Linked DNA regions of Homo sapiens: region 2 is linked to region 1. The links come from fine-mapping of genetic effects on gene expression. A gene starts in region 1. The other region holds a variant in brackets. All regions are shown on one strand. Distances are from middle to middle.

Region 1 (12,924 bases):
TGCTGCGGAGTGGACGAATAATGGGAGACTGGACCGTACCCTGACCAGAACCCTGTGCGGGAGAGGTGGGGAAGGAGCAAGAAATGGAGGCTGGGAGGGGCTGTGGGGGCCTGAGCTGGAAAGAGTCAGCCCGACTGGGGGTGTCCTGCGGTACGTGCTGTGGAGAGGGGCTTCGCGGAATCGGGCCCCTAACGGGTGGGACCCCGAGGCCGCGGGTGGGGGATGGTGGGGAAGAGGTTTTCCAGGAGAGAGTCCCTGGCTGAGTGAGCACTGTCGAGCACACGCGAGGCCGTGGGTGGGGAGGCAGCAAGGAGGTGAAGGCGGGGGTCCCAGTGGGCGGGAGAGGCTTGCTGTCGGTACTGGGAGGTGGGGTGTTTCCTAGACCCTGCAGGGGCTGAGGCAGGGTTGACATCGTGAGAAGGAGACAGGAGAGGGTGGAAGGGTGTCCTGTGCCCGCTGTTGCTCACAGGGGAGAGGAGGGGCTGCTGCAGGAGGCCCTCCCCTAGGGTCGGCAGGGGGATGGAGGAGGAGCTGCCCGGTGGGGACTCAGGAAGCAGCACAGCCCACAGCTAGGGCCAGGGGCTGAGGGGCAGGACTGGACCCTGGGGGCAGGGTGAGGGGTTCTGGGGTCAGCCCAAAATTGGCCCACAGGCCCAGCCTGTCCGTCACTCCTGAACAAATCTGCTTCTCTGGAGGAGCAGAAGGAGAGTTGGGTGCGGGATAGAGGTGAGAAGAGTGCTTGGACACACAGGCTGTGGGGTCCCCAAGATGGTCTCACGGGTCTCTGGGATGAGATGCGGCTACCAAGACCCTACGTGCAGCCAGGAGACTGACCAGGCCGCTTTAAGGCTGGAAGAGACATGGCCCTGCCAGCATCCACCTGACAGTCCTGAGGACTGTGTGACTGGGCTCAGTCTTGACCTTCACGGGAGACCACACAGCCTGGTACACAGCAGGGGCTATGCAGTTCTGGGTCACTTGACAGCCACTCCAGACGAGGCCGCAAGCACTGGACATGGGGTTTTCCAGCCTTCTGGGGTGGAGCCATCTTTCTTAGGCCAGGATTAGTCCCTCCCCACACAGTGCCTCTGCTTGTGCTAGTGGCCTGGTGACCTCCCTTATGCCATCCGACGTCACCCCAACCTGCTGTTCAAACTTTATTGTTAGAAATTATTTATTTCCGGCCGGGTGCGGTGGCTCATGCCTGTAATCCCAGCACTTTGGGAGGCCGAGGCAGGCGGATCACCTGAGGTCAGGAGTTCCAGACTAGCCTGATCAATATGGACAAACCCCGTCTATACTAAAAATACAAAAGTTAGCTGGGTATGGTGGCAGGTACCTGTAATCCCAGCTACTCGGGAGGCTCAGGCAGGAGAATCACTGAAACCCAGGAGGTGGAGGTTGTGGTGAGCTGAGATTGTGCCATTGCACTCCAGCTTGGGAAACAAGCGCAAAACTGTGCCTCAAAAAAAAAGTTATTTCCTTCTGAAATTGTTCTTCAAATGTTTCTTGTCACATACATGCAGCAGTAATTTGGTAGAAACATGAGAAATTGTGATCCTCTGTCTTGCTCAGCTTGGCTCCCCTCCCCAACCAGCATTATCTGCCCGCACCCCCAATCCCCAACAACTGATGTGTCCTTATCTCCCTGCCCCCTACCGCGCCCCCGTAGCATAATTGTATGCCACATATGGGCACACCATCACATATGGCTAAAATGGGATCACTCCGTAATGAATGAATATATATATATATATATTTTTTTTTTTTGAGATGGAGTCTCGCTCTTGTTGCCCAGGCTGGAGTGCAATGGCGTGATCGGGGCTCACTGCAACCTCCGCCTCCCGGGTTCAAGCGATTCTCCTATCTCAGCCTCCCGAGTAGCTGGGACTATAGGCGCACACCACCATGCCCAGCTAATTTTTGTATTTTTTAGTAGAGACGGTGTTTCACCATATTGGTCAGGCTGGTCTTGAACTTCTGACCTTAGGTGATCCACCTGCCTTGGCCTCCCAAAGTGCTGGGATTACAGGCATAAGCTACCGTGCCTGGCCAATGCTAGGCACTTTTTATGGGCCAGGGACTGATCTAAGTACTTTTCATGCACACTGCTTTTCTTTTCTTTTTTTCTGAGATGGAGTCTCACTCTGTTGCCCAGGCTGGAGTGCAGTGGCGCGATCTCGACTCACTGCAACTTCTGCCCACAGAGTTCTAGCGATTCTCCTGCCTCAACCTCCCGAGTAGCTGGGATTACAGGCGCCCGCCACCGCACCCAGCTAATTTTTTGTATTTTTAGTGGAGACGGGGTTTCACCATCTTGGGCAGGCTGGTCTTGAACTCCTGACCTCGTGATCCACCCGCCTTGGCCTCCCAAAGTGCTGGGATTACAGGTGTGAGCCACCATGACCCACCTCATGCACGCTGCTTTTCTAATTTAGTGTCTTATAATTGTGGAGCTATGTCTTGTGAAAAGGTATTTCCAACAAGATTCTCTGAGATAGTTTTCCCATGTGCTTTCAGTGCCTCAGGGGTGGGGTAGTCCATAGGAGCCCCTGTTACCCATTCAGGAGTGGGTGAGGGGAGACCCCAGGGACCAATGCCAGCAGGAAGAGGTGGGGTGGTTGGGAGGATGGAGATTGCACATGCTTGGGGACAGCTTGGAGGTGCGTGTTAGAATTTTTCTGAGAGGGGTTAAGGTGCTGTTTTGTGAAGCACAACGAGTTAGTGAGTGCTAAATCTCCATGACCCCTGCCGTCTATATGGCTTGGATACGTCATGTCAACCTGACATAAAGCCATGGGTGAACATTCTCTGGGACCCCACCTGTGTGTGGGGAAAAGCAAGAGAGATCAGATTGTTACTGTGTCTGTATAGAAAGAAGTAGACATAGGAGACTCCATTTTGTTCTGTACTAAGAAAAATTCTTCTGCCTTGAGATTCTGTTAATCTATGACCTTATCCCCAACCCCGTGCTCTCTGAAACATGCGCTGTGTCAACTCAGGGTGAAATGGATTAAGGGTTGTGCAGGATGTGCTTTGTTAAACAAATGCTTGAAGGCAGCATGCTCCTTAAGAGTCATCACCACTCCCTAATCTCAAGTACCCAGGGACACAAACACTGCGGAAGGCCGCAGGGACCTCTGCCTAGGAAAGCCAGGTATTGTCCAAGGTTTCTCCCCATGTGATAGTCTGAAATATGGCCTCGTGGGAAGGGAAAGACCTGACCGTCCCCCAGCCCGACACCCGTAAAGGGTCTGTGCTGAGGAGGATTAGTATAAGAGGAAGGCATGCCTCTTGCAGTTGAGACAAGAGGAAGGCATCTGTCTCCTGCCCCTCCCTGGGCAATGGAATGTCTCGGTATAAAACCCGATTGTACGTTCCATCTACTGAGATAGGGAAAAACCGCCTTAGGGCTGGAGGTGGGACATGCGGGCAGCAATACTGCTTTGTAAAGCATTGAGATGTTTATGTGTATGCATATCTAAAAGCACAGCACTTAATCCTTTACCTTGTCTATGATGCAAAGACCTTTGTTAACGTGTTTGTCTGCTGACCCTCTCCCCACTATTGTCTTGTGACCCTGACACATCCCCCTCTCAGAGAAACACCCACAAATGATGAATAAATATTAAGGGAACTCAGAGGCTGGCGGGATCCTCCATATGCTGAACGCTGGTTCCCCGGGTCCCCTTATTTCTTTCTCTATACTTTGTCTCTGTGTCTTTTTCTTTTCCAAGTCTCTCGTTCCACCTTACGAGAAACACCCACAGGTGTGGAGGGGCAACCCACCCCTTCACATGTGTGATTAAATAGTTGAAGTTTTGGCATCCTTTTACAATGAGAGAATAGCACAGGATTTACATACAATTTTTGGACATCCAAGTTCACCACAATACCCATATTGTCTGAAATTATGTGCCATGGCCCTGAGGGGAGTCATGATCCCTCCCCCAAAGATGGTTGTGGCTGTCAGGACACAGCAAGTACCCACAATTCCCTCCTGGTGAAGAGTGCCTCTGTCCTACCCAGCCTGTGCCTCACTCCTGAGCAAATCCGCTGTCAGCAGTGTGAATGCAGGAGACACCCTTGGTCCCCCAAAGAATCTGAGGAACCTAGGGGCATCCAGTCCTGGGACAAGGATCTATGTAGACATCATACAAGTTTAGCACCACCCATAGTGGAGTGCTGGGCTAAGCCTACTTAGACAGATATCACCCTCCTCACCCAGTTTCCCCTGTCCTTGTGAAAAGGAAGAAAATGATGGTTCCTGGTCTGTCTTGTGCTCAAATCTGACCCGGCTCCCAACCAGCTGTGGCTCTGGATGAGTCCCTTACCTTCTTTGATCCTCATTCCTCCTCCCAGGGTCTGGTTGCAATTCAGAGGATCTGAAAACCTAGAGTGTGTGTGAAACCATCTCTAAAGTGTGTGTGGAGGTGAGTGGGAACTCGGGAAACACCGAGTTTCATATATTGAACTGTTCCTCCCACTTGCATGATGGTTTCACAACACAGTTTAGTGGCTAAAGAATATGTGACTTGGAGCCAGGTCTGTGGGTTGGATCCCAGCTCTGTTACTTAAGAGATGAGACCTTGGCCAGGCACAGTGGCTCACGCCTGTAATCCCAGCACTTTGGGAGGTCGAGGCTGGCAGATCATCTGAGGTCGGGAGTTAGAGACCAGCCTGACCAACATGGAGTAACCCCCTCCTTACTAAAAATACAAAATTAGCCGGGCGTGGTGGCGCATGCCTGTAATCCCAGCTGCTCGGGAGGCTGAGGCAGGAGAATCACCTGAACCTGGGAAGTGGAGATAATGTTGAGCCAAGATGGCACCATTGCACTCCAGCCTGGGCAACAACAGTGAAACTCCGTCTCAAAAAAAGAGACTAGACCTTGGCAAATAACAGGGACACTATGCTCTCCTCATTTTAGTATGGGAACAGTAGTATTTTGATAGGATTACCATGAGGATTAAATTAGTAAATACAAAGAGCATACAAATGTTTACAGAAGTCACAGGGCTGTTAGAAGTCAGAATGGCCACCCTTGGGTGCAGACAGGAGAGGTGGTCTGAGAGTGATCAGAGGGAGCAGCAAAGACACTTCAAGATCCCAGAAACTGGCCCGGTGCGGTAGCTCACGCCTGTAATCCCAGCACTTTGGGAGGCCGAGGCGGGCGGGTCACCTGAGATCAGGAGTCCGAGATCAGCCCGGGCAACATGGTTAAACCCCGTCTCTACTAAAAATACAAAAATTAGTCGGGCGTGGTGGTGGGAACCTGTAGTCCCAGCTACTCCGGAGGCTCAGGTAGGAGAATCGCTTGAACCTGAGAGGCGGAGGTTGCAGTGAGCCCAGATCACACCATTGCACTCCAGCCTGGGGAACAAGAGCGAGACTCAGGCTCAAAAAAAAAAAAAAAAGTCATACTAAACAATGTCATAAATTTATATGAGACCGACCCTGGCCGGACGCCCCCGCTCCGCCCTTCCTGCGGGTCCGGGAGTCGATCCCCCACCGTGCTCCCCAACCCCCGCAGGCCACCCGGGGGCAGAGAGTGGGCGCAAGGGGTGAACGTTCGCTGCCTCCGATCCCGGGGGAAACGGAGCGCCGAGAACGTCGACGCCCTTCCGCGCCCGTCGGGCCTGGGACTGATACCCGGTCTGGCCCGGAACCCCCCAGGCGCGCCCCTAGCTGGGGCCCTGGCGACCGCCGCGCCGCAGGGGCTAGAAGCCGTCGAGACGCGAGCGCCATCGAGGCGCGCGGTCCTCCAGGCCTCCCAGAGCGGCGCAGCGGCCGTTTCCGGGGGCGGGGAAGGAACCGGAGCCTGAGAGCCGGGCGCCGTGCGCTCCTCCCCGCGCTGTCTCGGCGGCCCAGGGTGAGTCGGCCGCGGCCGCGGGGCGGGGACTGGGAGGGGCGCGGTCCTCCGAGCCCGGCCTGGTGGAGGCTGTAGCCCCCGCAGTGGGCGCGCGGAGCTCGGCAGGGAGCGGACCCGCAGCCGTCACTGTCGCCTCCGCTCGCCTTGGGTTCCGAACCCTTATCGGGGCGAAGGGCCCTGCGCCCCGGTCCATGCTGGCTGTGGTCGGGGGCGTGCGGCCGGGCCCCCGAGACCCGCTCCGCCGAGCCGGACGGTTGCGCAGAGATGAGGCTGCAGGCGGGGAGGCCTGGCGAGGTGGGGCTGCTCCGGGGAGGACCAGGCTCTGCCCCTCGCTTCCGTCCGATGGCGGGCTCTTCCCGGCAGCCTCGCTCCCCGGCGGACGCCGTTTCCCGCAGCGTTCATTTACCCTGCGCAGTTTTGCCCCCTCCCCGGGTTGGGGCATTTATTGGACCAACAGTCATTTCGTAAATAGCTGTTGGGTATTTAACTGTGAGCGTTCCGGTGCTGGGGACCCCGCAGTGAGCGAACAGCCCGCCTCGCCTCCAGGAGCATGAATTGTAATAGAGGTGAGGCGTTAGTGTAACAGGCAATAACGCAGCAAAATAACTTCTGGTTTTGACAAGGGCCTCGCACAGAATAAACCAAGGAAATAAAATTGTGAGAGTTAGGGGGTTAGGGTAGCCTTGGCGGTCAGGGGAGGCTCTGTAAGGAGTTAACATTTGGCCGTGCGCAATGGCTCACGCCTGTAATCCCAGCACTTTGGGAGGCCGAGGCGGGCGGATCACGAGGTCAGGAGATCGAGACCATCCTGGCTAACACGGTGAAACCCTGTCTCTACTAAAAATACAAAAAATTAGCCGGGCGTGGTGGCGGGCGCCTGTAGTCCCAGCTACTCGGGAGGCTGAGGCAGGAGAATGGCGTGAACCCGGGAGGCGGAGCTTGCAGTGAGCCGAGATCGCGCCACTGGTCTCCAGGCTGGGCAACAGAGGGAGACTCTGTCGCAAACAACAGCAACAACAAAAAAGAGTTAACATTTGAACTGAAACCTGCTGGAGGAGAGAAGCAGCCACAGATCCCTGAGGAGAAACTCCCAGGCGGGGGAACAGAGAGAAGGCTGGCATGGCTGCGGCGTAGTGAGCCGGGTGCCCCAGGTCCCCGAGGAACAGGGCTTATTCTGCGTATGGAAGGAGGTGACCCCTCCTAGTCTTCCAGACCCCAGTTAAATGAGTTCCCCCAGTAACATTTCTTGGTGGTCCTTCATCTAAAATTAGCACCCTCCTCCCCTTGACATTTTCTGTCTCAGCAACAGCTTGATCTGTTGTCATCATATCACTGCTCCATTATTTTTAGCTCAGTGCTGTTTAATCTGATTGAAGGTTTACTTCCTAATTCCGAAGATAGAACTAAAAGCAGGTTTTTTTCCCCTCTAACCAGGTAGCCCCTCCCTGAGGACATGCACTCCCTAGACATGAGCAAACACAAAGCAGCAGTAACTTACCGCTCCTAGTCCAAGTCCTACCCTAGTCCTGGGTTGCAGTTCTTACCAGAGTGGAGGGTGGTATGTGTTGAGGGGTCGGGGATCAAGTCTTCTGGCAGCCTCATACCCTGAGATACTCTGGTTGCCTTGTTGGGGTGAGGACAACACGTGTGGCCATCGCAGTGGCCCAGGTGGGTCCTGCCACAGACTGCCCTGGACAGACAGTGAGTGGGGGCTGGGTGGGGGTGGTGTGGCCCTGCTCTTCCATGCGTTTGCAGTCTGTGCCCTCTGTGCAGGGGTGATTCACGAATCTGTCTGATCCACCCCCATCGCCCTTCGTACCCTAACATGTCAAAAGGGCTCTGCTGCCAAATGTCACTTCATAGCATTGTGACCAAGCAGCCCTCCTGCCTCTAAACGCACTCTTTATTTTTATTTGAGAGAGAACCTCACTCTGTCGCCCAGGCTGGAGTGCAGCGGGGCACACTTGGCTCACTGCAACCTCTGTCTACTCAAGCAGTTCTCCTGCCTCAGCCTCCCAAGTAGCTGGGATTACAGGTGCGTACCAGCACACTCGGCTAATTTTTGTATTTTTCGTAGAGAAGGGTTTCACCATGTTGGCCAGGCTGGTCACGAACTCCTGACTTCAAATGATCCGCCCTCATCGGCCTCCTAAAGTGCTGGAATTACAGGCATGAGTCACTGTGCCTGGCCTCTAAACACATGCTTTTTGTTAACTGATGCCTAAAGGGAAACATCTCTTTACAAAGTGGCAGCTACTTAGACGGCTCCAGCTCTACAGAAATGGATAGCCCCGGAGACCTTCACCCAAACACAAGAGCTCAAGTGTCTGTTGAAGGGAAGAGTGAGGAGAACAGGGCCTCATGCCTACTCTGTATACGTCTGCTTAGAGCAAAATTATTGTTTTGTTTTGTTTGAGACAGAGTCTCACTCTGTCGCCCAGGCTGGAGTTGGTGGCATGATCTCGGTTCACTGCAACCTCTGCCTCCTGGGCTTAAGGGATCCTCCCAGGATGACCAAGGTTGCACCATTGCACTCCCGCCTGGGCAACAAGAGCGAGTTGTCGGAGTCTCACTCTGTCACCCAGGCTGGAGTGCGGTGGCGCGATCTCAGCTCACTGCAAGCTCCGCCTCCCAGGTTCACGCCATTCTCCTGCCTCAGCCTCCCTAGTAGCTGAGACTACAGGTGCCTGCCACCATGCCCGGCTAATTTTTTGTATTTTTAGTGGAGATGGGGTTTCACCGTGTTAGCCAGGATGGTCTCTGTCTCCACCGCACCTGGCCAAAAAAGTGTTAAATTAGAAAAATAGAAAGAGGCCGGGTGTGGTGGCTCACACCTGTAATCCCAGCACTTTGGGAGACCGAGGCAAGAGATCACTTGGGTCCAGGAGTTCAAGACCAGCCTGGGCAACATAGTAAGACCTCATCAATAATAAAAACTTTTAAAAATTAGCTGGGTGTGGTGGCATGCGCCTGTAGTTCCAGCTACTCGGGAGGCTGAGGTGGGAGGATTGCTTGAGCCCAGGAAGTTGAGGCTGCAGTGAGCTGAGATCACACCACTGCGCTCCAGCCTGGGTCACGCATTGAGACCCTGTCTCAAAAAAAGGAAAGAAAAATAGGAGAAAAAGAGGAACCACTCATAATTCTATGACGCAGAGAGAGCTAGAGTTTTATGCTACCAGCTTTATTTTTCTGCTTACAGTCTGCTTGTTTCATGTAGTAAAATGCAAGAATGTTTTCTGATGTTCCCACAACATGGTTTTATTGGTTGCAGAGTCACCCATTGTTCATTTCATAATGAGCAATGTTGCCCAGGCCGGAGTGCAATGGTGCAACCTTGGCCATCCTGGGAGGAAATCTTAAGCCCAGGAGGCAGAGGTTGCAGTGAACCAAGATCACACCACCAACTCCAGCCTGGGCGACAGAGCGAAACCCCGTCTCAAACAAAACAAAACAATAATTTTGCTCTAACCAGTCACGCTTTGTTCATTTCATAAATCCTTTCTGAGCACATGCTGTGTGCCAAGCCCTTCCTCAGGCCCTAGGGGTACAGACCAGAGGCCTTGTCTAATTGGGGAAGGCAGATAAGGAGCAAGGAAGTTAACTTGTCTTATGTCAGATGGCATAGTGCTATGGAGAAAAATAAAGCAAGGAGCGAGGATAAGGAATTCCCAGGCAGGAGGGGAGGTGGCAGTTTAAAAAATGGTGGTCACAGAAGGCCTCCCAGCAAGGTGAGAGCCAGAAAACATTGGAAGGAGTGGGTGTTCCCATGGAGAAGCTTGGATACACCTCCTTGGGACGTGAAGGAGGCGGCTGATGTGATTGCCCTAGCACTTTACCCTCTCCTGCTCCCTTCTGGATCTGGAGGGGCCTTCTGGGGGGCTGGAGGGCCTTAGGCCTGGGCTCTTTCCACTCATGGCTCTATGTTCCCTCAGAATTCACTGTCTGTAGCATCTGCTCCTCCACAGAGGGACCCTGGAATGGCGATGGCACTCCCGATGCCTGGACCTCAGGTGAGCACCCCCTGAGCCCGTCCATTGCCCCAGGAGACTGCTTCGCCCCTAGCCTCAGCTTTTCAGCCCTGAGAACCTTACAGCTTGCCTCACACCCACCCACATCACAGGATGGAGTCTGCAAGCCGAGGACAGCCTCCTCGCTCTATGGCCAGGCCTCACACATGGCTCTGCCAAATCCTTCCAGCCTTTGGGCAGAAGTGGGCTTCCTGCGGCCTCCTCTGGCCCCTGAGCTTCTATGGTCAGCCATTGAGGGCAGGGTCCCTGTCCTTCCCCAGTGCCTGCCTCCTTCCTGGTGTGAATGGTCAGCCCATCCTCCCTCTCCTGATGCTGACTCACTGCTGGTGTTAGAAATTGAGACCCAGAGGGTGGGGATGCTCCCCACAGTGCAGGTGCTCCTTCCCCAAATCCCTGATAGCCTGTGGAGAGGGCGAGGCCAAGGTTGGGACCCCCTTCCTGGTAAATCTCTCTCCCTCCCCCAAGTTCAGTTTTTCCCTCTTCCTCTCTGGGGCTTCTGCTGAGAATGAGGCCGCTCACTCGGGGGGTGTTGGGCTGCCCTTTCTCTGCTGGGCCCTGTGGATGCAGCAGTGGGCAGCAAGGAGAGAGGCCTCTAGCAGATCATGCAAATGTTTCTCATCTGCTGGGTTCTCACCGAGCCCTTGACTGCCTGGATAGCAGAGTATGTGGTTGCAGGAGGCGGTTGTGTTCGAGGATGTGGCTGTGTACTTCACAAGGATAGAGTGGAGTTGCCTGGCCCCCGACCAGCAGGCACTCTACAGGGACGTGATGCTGGAGAACTATGGGAACCTGGCCTCACTAGGTGAGGGCTTCTGCCTTTGGTCCTGGGGCCGGGAGGTGCGTCTGTGTTAGCTTCAAAGGAAGTTGGTTCCATTGCAGATTCAAGGTCTGACACATTTTTGAGGGGAAGCTGGAGGCTCCCCAAGGAGCCCCTCTCTGCTTCCTGTTGGGCACCCACTGCCAGCGTCAGCCTGCCTGAGGCTTCTCTCCTGGGGCAGGCCCCCCATCTCCCCCTGGCCACCTAGCTGCCCCCTTCTGGGATAGTGAATGTTCCTGACCCACTCCAAGCACTCTGTGCCCTGATGGCCTCCAGCCAGGCACCTGGGCGTCCCTTCTCCCTCCTGTACTGATACGTGCTGCTTTCCTTCTCTGAGCTTAGGCTTTCTTGTTGCCAAACCAGCACTGATCTCCCTATTGGAGCAAGGAGAGGAGCCGGGGGCCTTGATTCTGCAGGTGGCTGAACAGAGCGTGGCCAAAGCCAGCCTGTGCACAGGTGAGTACAAAGCACCCACAGGGCGTGTCCTGTGCTGCCAATGTGGCCTGGCCTCCGGGCAGCTCTGCAGGTCCCTTCTTCTACAGTGGGAGGTGTGTATGTTTAGCTCCTCACAGCAGGGCCAGATTTCCTACTAACTGCCTTGCTTGTAGGTCTAAGGTCAAAACTAACTTATGCAGGAAGACCCAAGTGCGAGAGTTTTCCATTTTGGTGTCCCCAAGGTGTCAGGGGCCGGGTCTGTGCTCACAGTGCCATTACCCTTGGGTTGTGTAGGGACCAGCCCTACAGGGTCTGTGGGTTTTTCTCCTCATGTGCAGAGACGAGAGATCATAGAAATAAAGACACAAGACAAAGAGATAGAAGAAAAGACAGCTGGGCCTGGGGGACCACTGCCACCAAGACATGGAGACTGGTAGTGGTCCTGAATGCCTGGCTGCGCTGTTATTTATTGGATACAAGGCGAAAGGGGCAGGGTAAAGAGTGTGAGTCATTTCCAATGATTGATAAGGTCATGTGAGTCACATGTTCACCGGACAGGGGGTCCTTCCCTGTTTGACAGCCGAGGCGGAGAGAGAGACAGGACAGCTTACGCCATTATTTCTTCTATGCATTTTAATGACTTTTAGTACTTTCACTAATTCTGTTACTGCTGTCTAGAAGGCAGAGCCAGGTGTACAGGGTGGAACATGAAAGTGAAACAGGAGCATGACCACTGAAACACAGCATCACAGGGAGACGGTCAGGCCTCAGCATGGCTGTGGGCGAGTTTGACTGATGTCAGGCCTTCCACAAGAGGTGGTGGAGCAGAGTCTTCTCTAACTACCCTGGGGAAAGGAAGACTCCCTTTCCAGGTCTGCTATGTAACTAGTGCCTTCCCAGGCACTGGGGTTACTGCTAGACCAAGGTCAACTAAGTAACGGGCGTCTTCCCAGGCACTGGCGTTACCGCTAGACCAAGGAGCCCTCTAGTGGCCCTGTCCGGGCGTGACAGAGGCTCACACTCTTGTCTTCTGGTCACTTCTCACTGTGTCCCTTCAGCTCCTATCTCTGTATGGCCTGGTTTTTCCTAGGTTATAATTGTAGAACAGAGATTATTATTATTATTATTTTTGAGATGGAGTCTCGCTCTGTCGCCCAGGCTGGAGAGCAGTGGCGCGATCTCAGCTCACTGCAAGCTCCGCCTCCCGGGTTCACGCCATTCTCCTGCCTCAGCCTCCCAAGTAGCTGGGACTACAGGCGCCCGCCACCATGCCCGGCTAATTTTTTGTATTTTTAGTAGAGACGAGGTTTCACCGTGTGAGCCAGGATGGTCTCGATCTCCTGACCTTGTGATCCACCGCCTCGGCCTCCCAGAGTGCTGGGATTACAGGCGTGAGCCACCGCGCCTGGCCATTATTTTTTTTTTTGAGACGGAGTCTCGCACTTTGGCCCAGGCTGGCGCGTTCTCGGCTCACTGCAAGCTCCACCTCCCGGGTTCACGCCATTCTTCTGCCTCAGCCTCCCGAGTAGCTGGGACTACAGACGCCCACCACCACGCCCAGCCAATTTTTTTTTTTGTATTTTTAATAGAGACGAGGTTTCACCATGTTAGCGAGGATGGTCTCGATCTCCTGACCTTGTGATCCGCCGCCTCGGCCTCCCAGAGTGCTGGGATTACAGGCGTGAGCCACCACGCCTGGCCAGAACAGAGATTATTATAATATTAGAATAAAGAGTAATGCTACAAGCTGATGACTAATACTATTCATATAT
Region 2 (16,153 bases), 110 kb after region 1:
AGCACTATTCACAATAGCTAAGATATGGAATCAACCGAAATGTACATCAAATAAATGGATACAGAAAATGTGGTATATGTACACAATGGAATATGATTCAACTATAAAAATAAGGAAATTATGTCATTTGCAGCAACAGGGATGGAACTGGAGGTCATTATGTTAATTGAAATAAGCCAGGTACAGAAAGACAAATATTGCATGTTTTCACTCGTATGTGTGAGTTAAAAAAGTTGGTCCCATGGAGGTAGAGGGTAGAATGATGATTACCAGAGGATGGGAAGGGTGGGGTTGGGGGGAGGTATGAGATGAATAGAAGTGGGTTAATGACTACAAACATACAGTCAGATATAATGAATAAGTTCCAGTGTTTGATACCACGGTAAGATGACTACAGTTAATAATTTATTGTATATTTCAAAACAACCAGAAGAAGAGATGTGAAATGTTTCCAACACAAAAAATGATGTTTGAGGTGACAGACATCCTAATTACCCTGATTTGATCATTATACATTGTATGCTATCCTTGTATCAAAATATCACATGTATCCCATAAATGTGTATAATTATTATATTCAATAAAAAAGAACTTTAATAAAAATACAGGTATATTTTTATTATTTCATGTGGGAAGGGCTGTTCTAAGCAAAATACCAAAAGCAAAAAGCAGAGCTCCACAGATCTGCAGCTTATAAATCAAAATCATATGCACATCAAAGCTACCAAACTCCAAAAATGGACCTAAAGGCATGCAACAATTTAGTATATGACAAAAGCGGTTTTTCAAATCAATGGGAAGATCAATGGTGTTAGAAATGGCTATGATTTAGAGGAAAAAAGGAATTCCAAAAGCTGTATTCCAAACTCACCCCACAATAAAATAAATTCCAGACGTATCCAACATTTTACAAGTACCACAGAAAAACAAGAGTTTATTTTAAAAATAATCTTGGAGTGGGGAAAGCCCTTTAAAACACAGCACAAAGCCCAAAATGCCTTAAGGCAAAATATTTGACTCCTAAAAATTTTAAATTTTCTATTTTGAAAAAGCCCAAACCAGAATCAAACACCATAATCAGAGTCAAAAGACAAATTGAGAAGCATGTTTTCAACATACATGGAAAAAAATATGAGCTGGCAAATCACAAAGAAATACAAATGGCGAAAACACAAATGAAGGGATTTCAATCTCACCAATAAACGCAAAACGTCGACCTGGCAGGAATGCAGTGACCTGTCAAAGCCCACAGGACCAGAGTCCCGTCCAGGGCGGGAATGTCAATGGCAATCTCCCACCCTTACCCACTTCGTAGAGACCACCGGACAGAGAAACCTATGTCCAGAAGACAAGTTACGAACTGAAAAATCTGCGAGTACCCACCCGGCGGAGGACGAGTGGAGCGCCCCCTGCCGCCCCTGGTGTTAGTCAAACGACACCAGCTTCCCTTTGATGACAGAAAAAAGGGTGTGCGTGCGTGCCTAAAGCTCTAACGGCATTCAAAAATTCTGAAACTGTTCACAGCTCCTGCCTCTTCATACACTGGCAGAGTGTCGGGGGGGATGACTTTTATATATTTCTGACATGCCTGCATTAGAAGAAGTATTGCATATTATTTTCAATTTTAAAATTAAGCCAATAAACAACAAGGAAAATATTTGCTGTGTTGCAAAGAGTTGGGCTCATTCATTAAAATAGGGCTCTAACACAGTAACAGAAAAGACAGCATCGACAGCAAAATGGGGAGAGGATAAGACACCCGGCAAGTAGCACACTCGACCAACTGCTGAAACGAAAGCAGCTCGTTTTCGTCTTGACGCGGGAAGACTTTTTATAGCTAAGTAAAGTGGCGCTCCCGGTGCGCCGCCGGGGTCTTCATGGGGCTCCTCAGGATGTGCATCAAACAGAAAAAACCTCCATTTTTATATTTTGGGGAAGCTCCCCACCCCTTTCCGGGCCCATCCCAGGGGACGCGAGACCCCGAGGAGCGCGGCAAGAAGAGCGGCCCGGGGGTCCGGACTGCGCCCCTAGGACTCCGGCCATCCTGGCCCTAGGCACGGCGCCCGGTAGAAAGCGCGCGGGAGGGCACGAGGGGGAGGAAGGCCGGAGATCTGAGGAGATCCAAGGTGGGAGGGACGCCGGTCTGACGGGGCCCAAGGGGGTAGGGGCGGGGAAGGGACCGAGGCCGTCCGAGGCGGACGGGGGTGCGGGAGGGCCTGAGGGGGTCCAAGGCCGGGCGAGGGGAAGGGTGGGAACCCCGAACGGGGGAGAGGGCGCGGCCTTGGCCCTGGGGAGGAGGCCGCCGCGCGTCCGTGAGGGGAGGGGACCAGCGTAAACGCAGGAGGCAGTGCGTGCTCGCGGGGAAGAGTCCACGATTCGTGTGGAGGACGCACCGGCTCCGGTGTCCGTGATGGGAGAGGGTCCTGGCCGGCGACGACACGCGCCCCCCACTCACCGTCAGAGCCGCAGCCTCACGCGCGAAGGAACGGCATCCCGCAGCACCTTCAGACAAAGGGCTGCCCCGCCCCGTCTGCGCAGCCGCCAATCCCTGGGGGCTCCTGCCCCTCAGTTCCCGCCCCCACAGCCGAGTTCGCCAATCCTGGAGGGCAAGCATGTTTACGTCATTTGGCCCGCCTGCCCGCCCGAAGCCTTTCTCGGTGACCGACTGCAGGGAGCTCTCAGGAGCCACCGAGAGCCAGACCTCCGCGATCCCTAGAGGGGCCGAACACCTCTGGGCAATGGGCCCGGCCGGCTCCCCGGCCGCACTTCCGGGCGCGGAGGTTACAGCCCATCGCCGAGCCTTACCCGCTCGCAGTCCCGGTTCCCGAGCTCCTGCCGCCGTCGCCCTGTGGAGGACACCCCTGCCGGCCCCGCAGTCCCTCCTCGACTTGCGCTGGCTTCGGCCGTCCTGGAACTCGAGCTCGTTCCCCCCTCCGAGCCTTTTGCCCTTGCGGTTCCCGCTGCTGGGAACGACCTTGCCCTCAGCCGCCTGGCTGGTCCCTGCGCCGCTGCAGTGCGAATGTCGCCTTCTCAGGGGCCCTTTCTCTTCCTTCGTTGCAACACTGAAGTCCTCTTGTTTGATGACTTGCGTGAGGTTATTCCTCCCACTTAGGAGGCTGAGTGCTGCGAGGTCCGAGGCGCAGCCGCTCTTCGCTGTGTCCGGCCCGGCGTGCTCCCGACAGGGGGCGTCACTGAACAGCGACCGTCTCCGTCGCCCACTCGGCCCTGGTGTTTGCTTTTTGGTGTGTTTACACCGCGCACCTGGGGGAGAGGGGCGGGCCTTCACGAGGGCGCGGGCCACACCCGTGTGGAGGCTTCGGGCACAGCCCAGGACCTGACAGCCGCGGCAGGGAGGGTGGGGCTGGTTTGGAGCGGTGTCAGGGGACGGGAAGGCTGACGCCTAGTCCACCTTCTGCTGGCCCCACTCCCGAAGGTCAGGTCCGCGTCGTCCATTGGGCGCGTGGGCGGGCCCAGACTCTCAAGAGGCTTCCCCACAGGGCGGGGCTGGGGGCTGCGTGGGGGCGGCGGGGAAGGCTTAAGGTTAGGGGGTAGGCTTGAAGCGAGTGCCCGGCCCGTGCTGTTGGGAGCGGAGGCCGGGAGGATGTGGCGATAATTCCGTACTTGCCGCGCACCAGGCAGACGCGAAGTCTGTGCTACGCTTCAGCGAACTTAGCAGCCCTTGCGGGCAGGGGTTCGCACTTCACGGAGCTACCATCCACCACGCGCGTTTCGAGCAATGGGCCCGTTGCCTGGCGCACTAGAAGCCAAAACGGTGGCACCAGTTTTTGAGAAAAGAGAAGGCTTTATTATTTCAAGGTCGACGGCCAAGGAGACCGGAGGCATGGCTCAAATGTGGCTCCCACATGTGGGCTTAGGTCAAAGTCGACGGGTTAGGGAGGACAGGTTGGCACACAGAAGTGCTGGCGGGCAGGTTTCAATAGGAGGGCTTTAAACTTGGCCATTTATGGTAAGGTGTGGAATGGCAGGTTTCAGCACCAGATCTTCCAGGATAATGGACCCTTCCCTTCTGAAAGCGTTCCGCCCCTCAAGCTCCGGTCATGTCCCTGTCTTCTTGGCTCCACAGGGAGGAAACGTTGGTTCCGAGTTATGATTTTCCTCCTTTGTGCATGTCCGGGTTACATGACTTTCAGTTTTGGCTCTGCTATACCTCCTGTTACCAACAGAATAGGGTCAGTTTGGGCCAGTCTTGTGGTTACACCTCAGTGTCACAGGATTTCCTCTGCCAAAGGGCTGTGAAGCTCAGGACCAAGGTAATCAAAATTCAGCTCTACTATTGGATTGTCCTGGATTGTTTTAGCAGTTGACAGGGATCAAGCTCTGTCCCAGCAACCTTGATCCCAACAGAGAACTGATGCTCCTAGGACCTTCACCTCAGACCTCAGTGCATCCTGGTTTTTGTTTTTCTTCCTCCTCCACAACTTTTTTATTTTGCAAATGTTGATACATTCATAAAGGTTGAAAGAATAATACAATGAATACCTCCGTGCCCTTCACTTAGATTTAGCAGCTGACATCCTCTCTAGCACGTCCCTTCTGTGTCTCTGTCACTCTTTTTCCTTCAACAGCACAATGTTTATTGAGTGCTTGTGTGCTAAGCACTAAGTGTCGGGGCTACATCAGTGAACAAGCAAGTGCCTAACAAATCCATGTCTTTCTGGACCATACATGTGAATGGAGACAGTAGGCAATACGCAGAATAAATGTAGGAATTACAGAGTGTGTCCAGAGATGGTGAGGACTACAGAAGGTCTGGGCAGGTGCCATTGTGTCTGCTGGTTCACCTGGGCGACATGAGGCAGCAGCTGCCCCCTCTTCCTCTGGCTCCTTCAGCTCCAAGACTAAAGGCTCCAGCTTCTCCTATAGGGCAACAAAGGGGTTTCAGCGCATCCTGGGCTCCAGCTTGAGGTCACAGACCTCAACTTGTCTCTCCTCACTTTACATCCATCTTCCCTTCCCAACTGTCTGCCCTGTTCCAGCATCAGATGCAAAGACAACAGCCTTACAGGAACTGTTAACTATGTGCCACAATGGTGTAAGGCACAGTCCCTGCAACAAATCGTATATGATATATATAATATATATACACACAATTTACGTATCGTTCATGAGTATACAGTTTACTTTTTTTATTTTTTATCCTTTTTTTGAGACCGAGTTTCGTTGTCGCCCAGGCTGGAGTGCAATGGCATGATCTTGGCTCACCGCAACCTCTGCCTCCTGGGTTCAAGCCATTCTCCTACCTCAGCCTCCTGAGTAGCTGGGATTACAGGCGCCTGCCATCATGCCCAGCTAATTTTTGTATTTTTAGTAGAGATGGGGTTTCGCCATGTTTTGACACCAGTTGTTTTGGAAAAACTCAAACTGTTTTTTTTTCTGCTCTCACACTGCCACAAGTGGGATTCAAACCCACACCTACCTTAGGAGACCAGAAAATTGTTTCAGAAAAACTCTCAAACCCTATTTTTCCTCTGCTCTCATACTAACAACACAGAAGACTTATGTAGCCCCAAAATATATGGGGATTTCTCCTCATCAGCAAGCCATCAATTCTACTGGGTGTCCTCCAGTTCAGCTCCTTCACTGTCTACCTGGAGATAGTGCCGGATCCCACAGGATGAGGGCTCAGTTCCCGACTCCCCAATCCCCGACAGGAGTCACAGCCTGGGCCTCCAGAACTGATTGACTTCCTTCAAGTCAGTTCACGACTCCCCAGTCCCCGACGTGAGTCATAGCCCGGGCCTCCAGAACTGATTGACTTCCTTCAAGTTGGGGTTTCCATGACTCCCTCTTTGGGTTTGATTTGCTAGAACAGCTCACGGAACTCAGGGAAACCCTTACTTATGTTTGCCAGTTTATAATGAAGGATATTACAGAGGATACAAATAAAGAGATGTGTAGGGCAAGGCATGGGGAGAGGGGTGCAGAGCCTCTGTGCCCTTGCAGGGCACACAGCCCTCCAGGAACTTCCATGTGTTCGGCTCTCCAGAAGCTCTACAAACCCAGTCCTCTTGGGTTTTCATGGAAGCTTCATGACATCGATATTTTTTCCACCAGGCTATGAGGTGGGACCCTCTCTGGAATGATGGTCTTATGACCCACAATCAGAGAGGTAGGGGAAGATTAGGGTCCTGCGGGCAGGAGGTCAGAGAGATTTTGTTCTCTGAAGCCTAATGCATCCAATGTTATAACAAACGAGTGTAACAAGGGCTATGGCAGTTATGAGCCAGAAACCATACAAACGTGTGTGTGTGTGTGTGTGTGTGTGTGTGTGTGTGTATGGAAAGAGAGAGAGAGACCAGAAGTGCTATGCTGGAAACTATTCTTTTGAGGTTGTGTTCACATTTTTTTTAACCAATTTAACATATTATGTTACTATCTCACTTAAGATTGGCATTGACTGTACAACAGAAAGCTGATTACAGTGGCTGAACCAAATAGGTGGTTTTTTTTATGAGTCAATTTTTCTAGGAATACGGAGCCCATCCAAGGCCACACAATGCCACCAGGCCTCTAGGCTCCCCCTTTATTTTCCATTGGCCATCTTAATAAGCAGCTTTCATTTTTTTTTTTTTTTTTTGCCTCATGATTGCAAGAAGACTGCTTCATCACTAGAATCACATCCAGATTCCAGGCAGAAAGAGAAAAAACAAAAGACAAAATCAAATGTATGCTCAGCCAACCCCATGTCTTTCAGAACTGCACCCTGTGACTTTTACTTATGTATTTTTGGTCTAAAGTGTGTTACAAGACCAATTCTAGCTCCAAGGGTGATTAGGAAAATGTGTTTTTTCAGCTGGGTAAAGTGCCATGTTTAACATTAAAAATTGCCAAAAATCAGGCTGGGCACGGTGGCTCATGCCTGTAATCCCAGCACTTTGGGAGGCTGAGGTGGGCGGATCACGAGGTCAGGAGATCGAGACCATCCTGGCTAACACGGTGAAACCCAATCTCTACTAAAAAAAAAATACAAAAAATTAGCCAGGCGTGGTGGCAGGCACCTGTAGTCCCAGCTACTTGGGAGGCTGAGGCAGGAGAACGGTGTGAACCCAGGAGGCGGATCTTGCAGTGAGCCAAGATCGCGCCACTGCACTGCAGCCTGGGTGACAGAGCGAGACTCCGTCTCAAAAAAAAAAAATTGCCAAAAATCCCTGATGGTGTTTTTGTGATGCAATGTGAGAACTTACAGGTAATCAATTTGACACCAGATAAGTGATAAAGAGTAAACTTAAAAATCAATTTAAAATTCATATCCTCAGATCTGATTTCATTAACTATCATTCAGTTTATCCTCAACCTAATTAATATGTACAACTGAGGATATTTAGAAATACTCTGTTCAGAGAAGAGAAATAAACATTTCTTATGGGGAAATATACTATAAGGCTGATAATAAATTGATTTTTAAAAATATATTTGACTGCTATGTCCTTACTGCTGTATTTTTGTTGCTTTATTGAGGTATAAATTGCACAGACAATAAATTGAACATACTTTTAGTTTGATGAAAATGTTGACCTAAGTAGATGCCTGTGAAACTATCCCCACAATTAAGATACTAAACAGGTCCATCAGCCCCAAACGCCCCCATCCCTGGGTCTGCTTTCTGTCACTCTAACTCAGTTTGTAGTTTGTATGATATTATATAATCATAGAAGATACATTATTTTGGAGTATGGGTGGGTCCGGCCTCTTTCACTCAGCATAGTTATTTCGAGATTTAGCCATTTGCTGCATATATCAATAGTTTGTTCCTTTAAATTGTTGGGCAATACTCCATTGTATGTATGTACGATAACTTTTTAATCCATTCACCAGATATTGGACATGGGTTGTTTCCATTTTTTAGCTACAGACATTTGTATGTAAGTTTTTGTGTGTATCTATGCTTCCTTTTTTCTCTTTTTCTTCTTTCCTTTTTCTTTCTTTCTTTTTCCCTCCCTCCCTCTCTCTTTTTTTTCTCTCTGTCTTCTTTGAGATGGACTCTCACTCTGTTGTCCAGGCAGGAGTGCAGTGGCGTGATCCAGGCTCATTGCAACATCTGCCTCCTGGGTTCAAGCAATTCTTCTGCCTTAGCCAACTGAGTAGCTGGGATTACAGGCAGGCACCACCACGCCTGGCTAATTTTTGTAGTTTCAGTAGAGATGGGGTTTCACCATGTTGGCCAGGCTGGTCTCGAACTCCTGACCTCAAGTGATCCACCTGCCTCTTCCCCACAAAGTGCTGGGATTACAGGTGTGAGCCACTGCGCCTGGCCTGCTTTTGTTTTAAAGAAACTGTCAACCTCTTTCTAAAGTGTTTTTCACCACTTGACCCCCCCTCGAGCAGTATGTGGCAGCTCCAGTTGCTCCATATACTTGCCTACCCTTGGTATTGTCAATTTGTACAAAATTAGCCATGCTGGTGGAAGTACAGTGGCATCTTATTGTGTTTTTCTTTTTTTGAGATGGGGTCTCACTCTGCCACCCAGGCTGGAGTGCCTTGGCGTGATCTCGGCTCACTGCAACCTCTGCCTCCCGGGTTCAAGTGATTCTCCTGCCTCACCCCC[C/T]AACTAACTGGGATTACAGGTGCGCACCACCACGCCCGGCTAAGTTTTGTATTTTCAGTAGAGACAGGGTTTTGCCGTGTTGTCCAGGCTGGTGTCGGGCTCCTGACTTCAAGTGATCCATCTGTCTTGGCCTCCCAAAGTTCTGGGATTACAGGCATGAACCACTGTGCCCAGCCTCATTGTGGTTTTTATTTGCATTTCTTTAATGCTTAATGTTGCTGAGGGTCTTTTCATGTGCTTGTTTGCTGTGTACATATATTCTTTGGTGAAGCAGCTGTTTACATTTTTTGCCCATTTTAAATAGTCATTTGTCTTATTATGAGTTCTTTATAGGATTGGATACTGGTCCTATGTTGCAAATATATGTTTTGCAAATACTTTCTCACAGTTGTACCTTTTCATTTCATTTCATTTTGAGGAGCAAAAGTTTTAAATTTTGATAAAGGAATTAATGGATTTCTTTCCTTCAAAGTTCATACTTTTTGTTTCTTATTTAGTAAATTCTTGGGTGGGCACAGTGGCTCACACCTGTCATCTCAGCCCTTTGTGAGGCCAAGGTGGGCAGATCGCTTAAGCCCAGGAGTTCAAGACCAGCCTGAGGAACGTGGCCACAAAAAATACAAAAGTTAGCTGGGCATAGTGGCACATACGGGTAGTCCCAGCTATTTGGGAGGTTGAGGTGGGAGTGAACCCAGGAAGTCAAGGTTGCAGTGAGCCATGATCACACCACTGCACTCCAGTCTGAGTGACAGAATGAGACCCTGTCTCAAAAAATAATAATAGCCTGGGTGCGGTGGCCAATGCCTGTTATCCCAGCACTTTGGGAGGCCAAGGCGGAAAGATCACTTGAGGTCAAGAGTTCAAGACCAGCCTGGCCAACATGGCGAAACCCCATCTCTACTAAAAACACAAAAAGTAGCTGGGCATGGTGGTGGATACCTGTAATCTCAGCTACTCGGGAGGCTGAGGCAGGAGAACCCCTTGAACCTGGAGGTGGAGGCTGCTTGTTCACTGATGTAGCCCCGGCACTTAGTGTTTAGCACACAAGCACTCAATAAAACAAAAACTAATAATAATAAAATTAATTAATTCTTGCCAAGTCAAGATCTGTAAGGTTTTCTCCTATTTTTTTTTCCTTTTTTTCTTTTTTCTTTCTTTCTTTTTTTTTTATTTTAGACAGAGTCTTGCACTGTTGCCCAGGCTGGAGTGCAACGGCGCGATCTTGGCTTACTGCAACCTGTGCCTCCTGGGTTCAAGCCATTCTCCTGCCTCAGCCTCTGAGTAGCTGGGACTACAGGCGCGTGCCACCACACCTGGCTAATTTTTAGTAGAGATGGGGTTTCACCATGTTGGTCAGGCTGGCCTTCAACTCCTGACCTTGTGATCTACCTGCCTCGGCCTCCCAAAGTGCTGGGATTACAGGCGTGAACCACGGTGCCCGAACTCCTATGTTTTCTTCTTCTAAATTTTATACATTTAGTTGATCATACATTTTGAGTCGATTTTTATACATTGTATGAGGTAAGGACTGGAGTTCATTCGTTGGTATATTGTTACTCAGTAGTTTCAACATTTGTTGAAAATGATACCCTAATCTTTTTTAGACAGGGTTTTGCTCTGTTGTCCAGGCTGGAGTGCAGTGGTGCCATCATGGCTCACTGTATCCTTAACCTCCTGGACTCAAGCAATCTTCCTGCCTCAGCCTCCAAAGTTGTTGGGATCACAGGAGTGTGCCACCGCACCAGGCTAATTAAAAAAAAATTTTGTGTGGAGACAGGGTTTCCCTATGTGGCCCAGGCTGGTCTTGAACTCCTAGGCTCAAGTGGTCCTGCTACTTTGGCCTCCCAAAGTGCTGGGATTACAGGTAGGAACCACCCCGGCCTGACAAGTCTAATCTTAAAATAATCTTTTGTATATTATTTTATATGTGCTAGCTGTAATATGTTATAAATATTTTTCTCAGTTTGTCATTTTTTTACTTTATGTTGGTTTTGGTCATGTAAAAAAATTTCATGTGGTTAAATTTATCGATATTTTCTCTTTTGTTTCTTGATTTTTAGTAGTAGTAAAAATTTCCCTCTCAGTTTCTAGAATAATTTATTCATGTTTTCACCTAGTACTTGTTTGGTTTTGTTTCTTTACATTTACCTCTCTGTTCCATTTGCAGTTTATTCTGCTACATGGTGTGGAGAATGGATCTAATTTTATCTTCCAAATGGCTAGCTGGTTATTCCAATACCCACATATGACATTTATCCCTAACCCATCATTTGCTTATATCAAATTTCCATAGGGGAGCAGTCTCCACAGTTGATGTTCTGACATTTGGAACTGCTCAGACCTTAGCCCATGGGCAGAGAAAACTCTGCACACAGAAGCCACATGGGGTCTCTGGGAGCCACGGTGCTCCCCACCCCTCCCCACACACAACAGGGGCTGGTGGTGACTGTGGTTCTTGACCCTCAAGCCTTAGGCGAGTGGTCCAGCTGAAATTTGCCCAGTAAAGGCCCTATTTTCCCCCCAGGCCCTGGAGCTTCTTTTGGAGGGTTCTGTTGGACTCAACAATGACACACAAAGCAGTACAGCTCAGAGCACATGCTGGCCAGCCAGCAGAGAGCTGGTGAATGAATATGCTGAGGCAATGGAAGCCATACCACTGGGTGGGGTGGTCATCACCCAGACATCTGCTGACAGTGCCGACTGTGTGGTTACCTGCAGACTCAGATGACCCACCCACAATTTTGAGACTGATGATGTCACACAAAAACATACACCCCAAGGGGGGTGTGAAAAGGTTTATTTTATACATAATTGAGGGCAGCAGCGAGGCTTCCCAGGCAGGTCCAAAATGGCTTGAGACAGCAAGGAAAGGAGGCTGGACTGGGTTTTTATTGTGGTTGGGGGTGGGACTGATGGGAGGTTCCCACATACAGGCAGGGGCTTGTGTGGTTCGAATCTTCCAGTGTCACCAGAGGGAGCACCCAGGCTTTCTTACCAGTTTCCCCAGATGTGAGCACAAAGGAAAGAGGGAGGGTGAGACTTAAACACTGACAATTATCAAACATCAAAAAATGGCCCCAGATTGCTCATTATGCCATGTGAGAAGTATGTTTTGCAGGGAGCAGGTCTATGCAAATCTACCGCCAAAGGCAGAGAGAGATGAGAGGTCAAAGAAAGAGGCTGATAAGTCCAGTTTCCCAGAAGAAAACATTTAACAGGGACTTAGAAACAGAAGCAATGTCTTAGGCAGCTTTGAGATGATGGATCCCTGCACCTGCCCTCCAAAAAGTAGCAAGCTTTTTTGGTAAAACATGTGCAGCTGGTTATGTCTCAGACTTTCCTGCAAAACTTGTGACCAATGGGGAGGTTAGATAAGCATCCTTATGAGGGGTTATCTATGCTACAGGCATTGTATAAAGACCTTGCTGCAGGACCCTTTGGTATGCAGGAGTCAACCACTGCTCATCATAGTGGTTTTGCCTCAAGAGGGCATCATTCTTGCCAGGCGACAGGCTATTTTCCTACACTCCACTCAGTGAAACCCACCCTTACAACCTCACATGCCCTCCTCTTCTGGAGGAGTCCCTGGGCACACAGGGAGAGTGCTTGATATATAGCTTTAGCCGCAGAGCATTGCCGACAGAAAACAGACTGGGCCCAGTAGGGTTCCAGAGGAGGGAGATTTGCCAGCTTCGTTGAATCATCTCTAGTCTTTGGAATACGGATATGGTTTGGCTGTGTCCCCACCCAAATCTCATCTTGAATTGTAGCTCCCACAGTTCCCACGTCATGGGAGCAACCTGGTGGGAGCTGGTTGAATGACTGGGGGTGAGTCTTTCCTGTGCTGTTCTGGTGATAGTGAATGAGTCTTGTGAGATCCGATGGTTTTAAAAATGGGAGTTTGCCTGCTCAAGCTCTCCTTTTTGCCTGCTGCCATCCATGTAAGATGTGACTTGCTCCTCCTTGCCTTCCACCATGATTGTGAGGCCTCTCCAGCCATGTGGAACTGTATGTCGATTAAACCTTTTTCTTTTGTAAATTGCCCAGTGTTGGGTATGTATTTATCAGCAGTGTGAGAACAGACTAATACAGTAAATTGGTACCAGTTGCTGAAAAGATACCCAAAAATGTGGAAGCAACTTTGGAACCAGGTAACAGCAGAGGTTGGAACAGTTTGGAGGGTTCAGAAGAAGACAGGAAAATGTGGGACAATTTGGAACCTCCTAGAGACTTACTGAATGGCTTTGACCAAAATGCTGAAAATGATATGGACAATGAAATCCAGGCTGAAGTCATCTCAGATGGAGATGAGGAATTTCTTGGGAACTGGAGCAAAGGTGAGGTAACTCTTGTTATGTTTTAGCAAAGAGACTGGCAGCATTTTGCCCCTGCCCTAGAGATGTGTGGAACTTTGAACTTGAGAGAGATGATTTATGTTATCTGGCAGAAGAAATTTCTAAGCAACAAAGCATTCAAGAGTTGATTTGGGTGCTGTTAAAGGCATTCAGGTTTTTTTGTTTTGTTTTGAGACAGTCTCCCTCTGTCAGTCACCCAGGCTGGAGTGCAGTGGCATGATCTTGGCTCACTGCAACATCTGCCTTCTGGGTTCAAGAGGTTCTCCTGCCTCAGCCTCCTGAGTAGCTGGGATTACAGATGTACACCACCATGCTTGGCTAATTTTTGTATTTTTAGTAGAGATGGTGTTTTGGCATGTTGGCCAGGCTGGTCTTGAACTCCTGACCTCAAGTGATCTGCCTGCCTTGCCTCCCAAATGCTGGGATTACAGTGGTGAGTCACCATGCCCAGCCAAGGCATTCAGTTTTAAAAGGGAAACAGAGCATAAAGTTTGAGAAATTTGCAGCCTGACAATGAGATAGAAAAGAAAATCCCATTTTCTGAGAAGAAATTCAAGCTGGCTGCAGAAAATTGCATTAATAACATGGAGCCTAATGTTAATCACCAAGACAATGAGGAAAATGTCTCCAGGGCATGTCACAGACCTTTGCAGCAGCCTCTTCCATCTCAGGTCCAGAAGTTTAGGAGGACAGAATGGTTTTGTGGGCTGGGCCCAGGGTCCCTCTACTGTGAGCAGTCTAGGGACTTGGTGCCCTGTGTCCCGGCTGCTCCAGCCATGACTGAAAGGGGCCAAGGAATAGCTTGGGGGCAGAGCTGCCCAAGACCATGGGAACACATCTCTTGCATCAGCATGACCTGGATGTGAGACATGGAGTCAAAGGGGATAATTTTGGAGCTTTAAGATTTGACTGCCCTGCTGGATTTTGGACTTGCACAGGGCCTGTAGCCCCTTTGTTTTTGCCAATTCCTCCCATTTGGAATGGCTGTATTTACTCAATGCCTGTACCCACATTGTATCTAGGAAGTAACTAACTTGCTTTTCATTTTACAGGCTCATAGGCAGAAGGGACTTGCCTTGTCTCAGATGAGACATTGAACTGTGGACTTTTGAGTTAATGCTGAAATGAGTTAAGACGTTGGAAGACTGTTGGGAAGGCATGATTGGTTTTGAAATGTGAGGATGACATTTGGGAGGGGCCAGGGTGGAATGATATCATTTAGCTGTGTCCCCACCCAAATCTCATCTTGAATTGTAACTCCCACAGTTCCCGTTGTGGGAGGAACCTGGTGGGAGGTGGTTGAATTATGCAGGCAAGTCTTTCCTGAGCTGTTCTTGTGATAGTGAATGGGTCTCATGAGATCTGATGGTTTTATAAAAACGAGTTTCCCTGCATAAGCTCTCCTGTTTGCCTGCTGCCATCCACGTAAGACGTGACTGGCTCCTCCTTGCCTTCCACCATGATTGTGAGGCTTCCCCAGCCATGTGGAACTGTATGTCCATTAAACCTCTTTCTTTTATAAATTGCCCAGTCTTGGGTATGTCTTTATCAGCAGCGTGAGAACAGACTAATACAAATACCATTTTTGTTTTCTCAGAAGAAGTAAAATGAGAGATATGTAACAATAACTTGAATAGTAGAAATATAATGTGCAGAAAGATTACAATCAAAAAGAGAATCTGGGCTGTGTGTGGTGGCTAACACCTGTAATCCTAGCATTTTGAGAGGCCAAGCCAGGAGGAATGCTTGAGGAGTTTGAGACCAGCTTTGGCGACATAATGAGACTCTGTCTCTATACACACACACAAACGCAAACACACACACACACACACACACACACACACACACACACACACTAGCCGGGCATGGTAGCACACACCTGTAGTCTCAGCTACTGTGGAGGCTGAGATGTGAGGATCACTTGAGTCTGGGAGGTCAAGGCTGTAGCGAGCTGTGATTGTGCCATTGCACCCCAGCCTGAACAACAGAGTAACATCCTGTTTCTTTTTTTAAAAAAGAGAGACAGAGAGATAGAGGACAGACAATTTGTATGCCAAAATGGAAAAAAAATAACCTATTCCATTAATGAGCCAACTAAAAACATCATGAAGAAACTTAAAACAGGCATGTGTCACCACAACTGGCTAATTTTTGTATTTGTAGTAGAGATGGGGGTTTCACCATGTTGGCCAGGCTGGTCTCGAACTCCTAACCTCAGGTGAGCCACCTACCTCGGCCTCCCAAAGTGCTGGGATTACAGGCATGAGCCACCGTGCCTGGCCTAGACACCATTTCTTATTTGACAATGTTTCCTACATAATTTTAACATACCAAATTAGCCTAATATATCTCTCTTGGCCTTTCAGGGACCCTAATTTTTTTTTTTTTTTTTTTTTTTTGGAGACGGAGTCTCGCTGTGTTACACAGGCTGGAGTGCAGTGGCGCAATCTCAGCTCACTGCAATCTCCACCTCCTGGGTTCAAGCAATTCTCCTGCCTCAGCCTCCTGAGTAGCTGGGACTACAGGTGCATGCTGCCACACCCGGCTAATTTTTTGTATTTTAGTAGAGATGGGGTTTCACCGTGTTGCCCAGGATGGACTTGAACTCATGAGCTTAGGCACTCTGCCTGCCTTGGCCTCCCAAAGTGCTAGGATTACAGGTGTGAGCCATTGTGCCTGGCCTGGTTTTTCAAAATTCATTAATTTATGTTTTTGTAGAGACAGGGTCTTGCTATATTATCCACGTTGATCTTGAACTCTGTGAGTGATCCTCCCACCTTGGCCTCCCAAAGTGCTGGGATTTCAGGCATGAGCCACTGTGCCTGGAAACAATGTGGCAAGTTGTGTTTTTTTTTTTTTTTTTGAGACATGGTCTTGCTCTGTCACCCAGGCTACAGTGCAGTGGCACGATCTCAGCTCACTGCAACATCTGTCTCCCAGGCTCAGGCATGAGCCACCATGCCAAGCTAATTTTTGTATATTTTGCAGAGACAGGGTTTCACCATGTTGTCCAGGCTGGTCTTGAACTCCTGGACTCAAGTGTTCTGCCCACCTTGGCCTCCCAAAGTGTTGGGATTACAGGCATGAGCCACCATGCCTGGCCACCAGGGGCCCTAACTGTTACGTCCAAGTTAGTTCAGGTCAAAAAGATTTAATTTTAGAATTTGAAACGTGATTTTGGGAAGTGTGTCAAATATCAAAGGTTTAAAACACCAGATATTAAAATAAGAAA

Alleles and levels. Positions count from the first base shown, and alleles are read on the strand shown. Sizes are in standard deviations (SD) of each study's normalised expression.
In carriers of allele C in region 2, the expression in amygdala of the gene that starts at base 5,848 in region 1 tends to be lower than with T alone (moderate effect, 0.42 SD a copy in GTEx).

The links. PIP is the estimated chance that this variant, and not a neighbour inherited with it, causes the effect. A credible set is the group of variants that fine-mapping cannot tell apart.
Region 2: its variant is the best candidate, but not a certain one, in a credible set for the expression of ZNF517 in amygdala (GTEx, PIP 0.52).

Annotation. Positions count from the first base shown.
Region 1 is chr8:144,793,066-144,805,989 of GRCh38, forward strand. It overlaps ZNF517 (zinc finger protein 517), which reads left to right and starts at 5,848. Exons shown (of 5, transcript NM_213605.3): 1 at 5,848-5,872; 2 at 9,805-9,882; 3 at 10,576-10,702; 4 at 11,060-11,173. The coding sequence starts at 9,850. RefSeq lists enhancers at 417-1,365, 2,659-3,557, 3,558-4,456, 6,241-6,350, 6,255-7,152 and 3 more and silencers at 5,441-5,690, 5,831-5,990, 6,011-6,210.
Region 2 is chr8:144,898,944-144,915,096 of GRCh38, forward strand. It overlaps ZNF250 (zinc finger protein 250), which reads right to left and starts at 2,510. Exons shown (of 6, transcript NM_001109689.4): 1 at 2,456-2,510. LOC124902042 reads left to right here and starts at 2,681. Exons shown (of 1, transcript XM_047422534.1): 1 at 2,681-3,338. The coding sequence starts at 2,739. The coding sequence ends at 3,338. RefSeq lists enhancers at 1,856-2,460, 2,461-3,063, 3,064-3,667 and silencers at 2,194-2,303, 3,364-3,443. The variant C/T (reference allele first, on the strand shown) is at 8,567.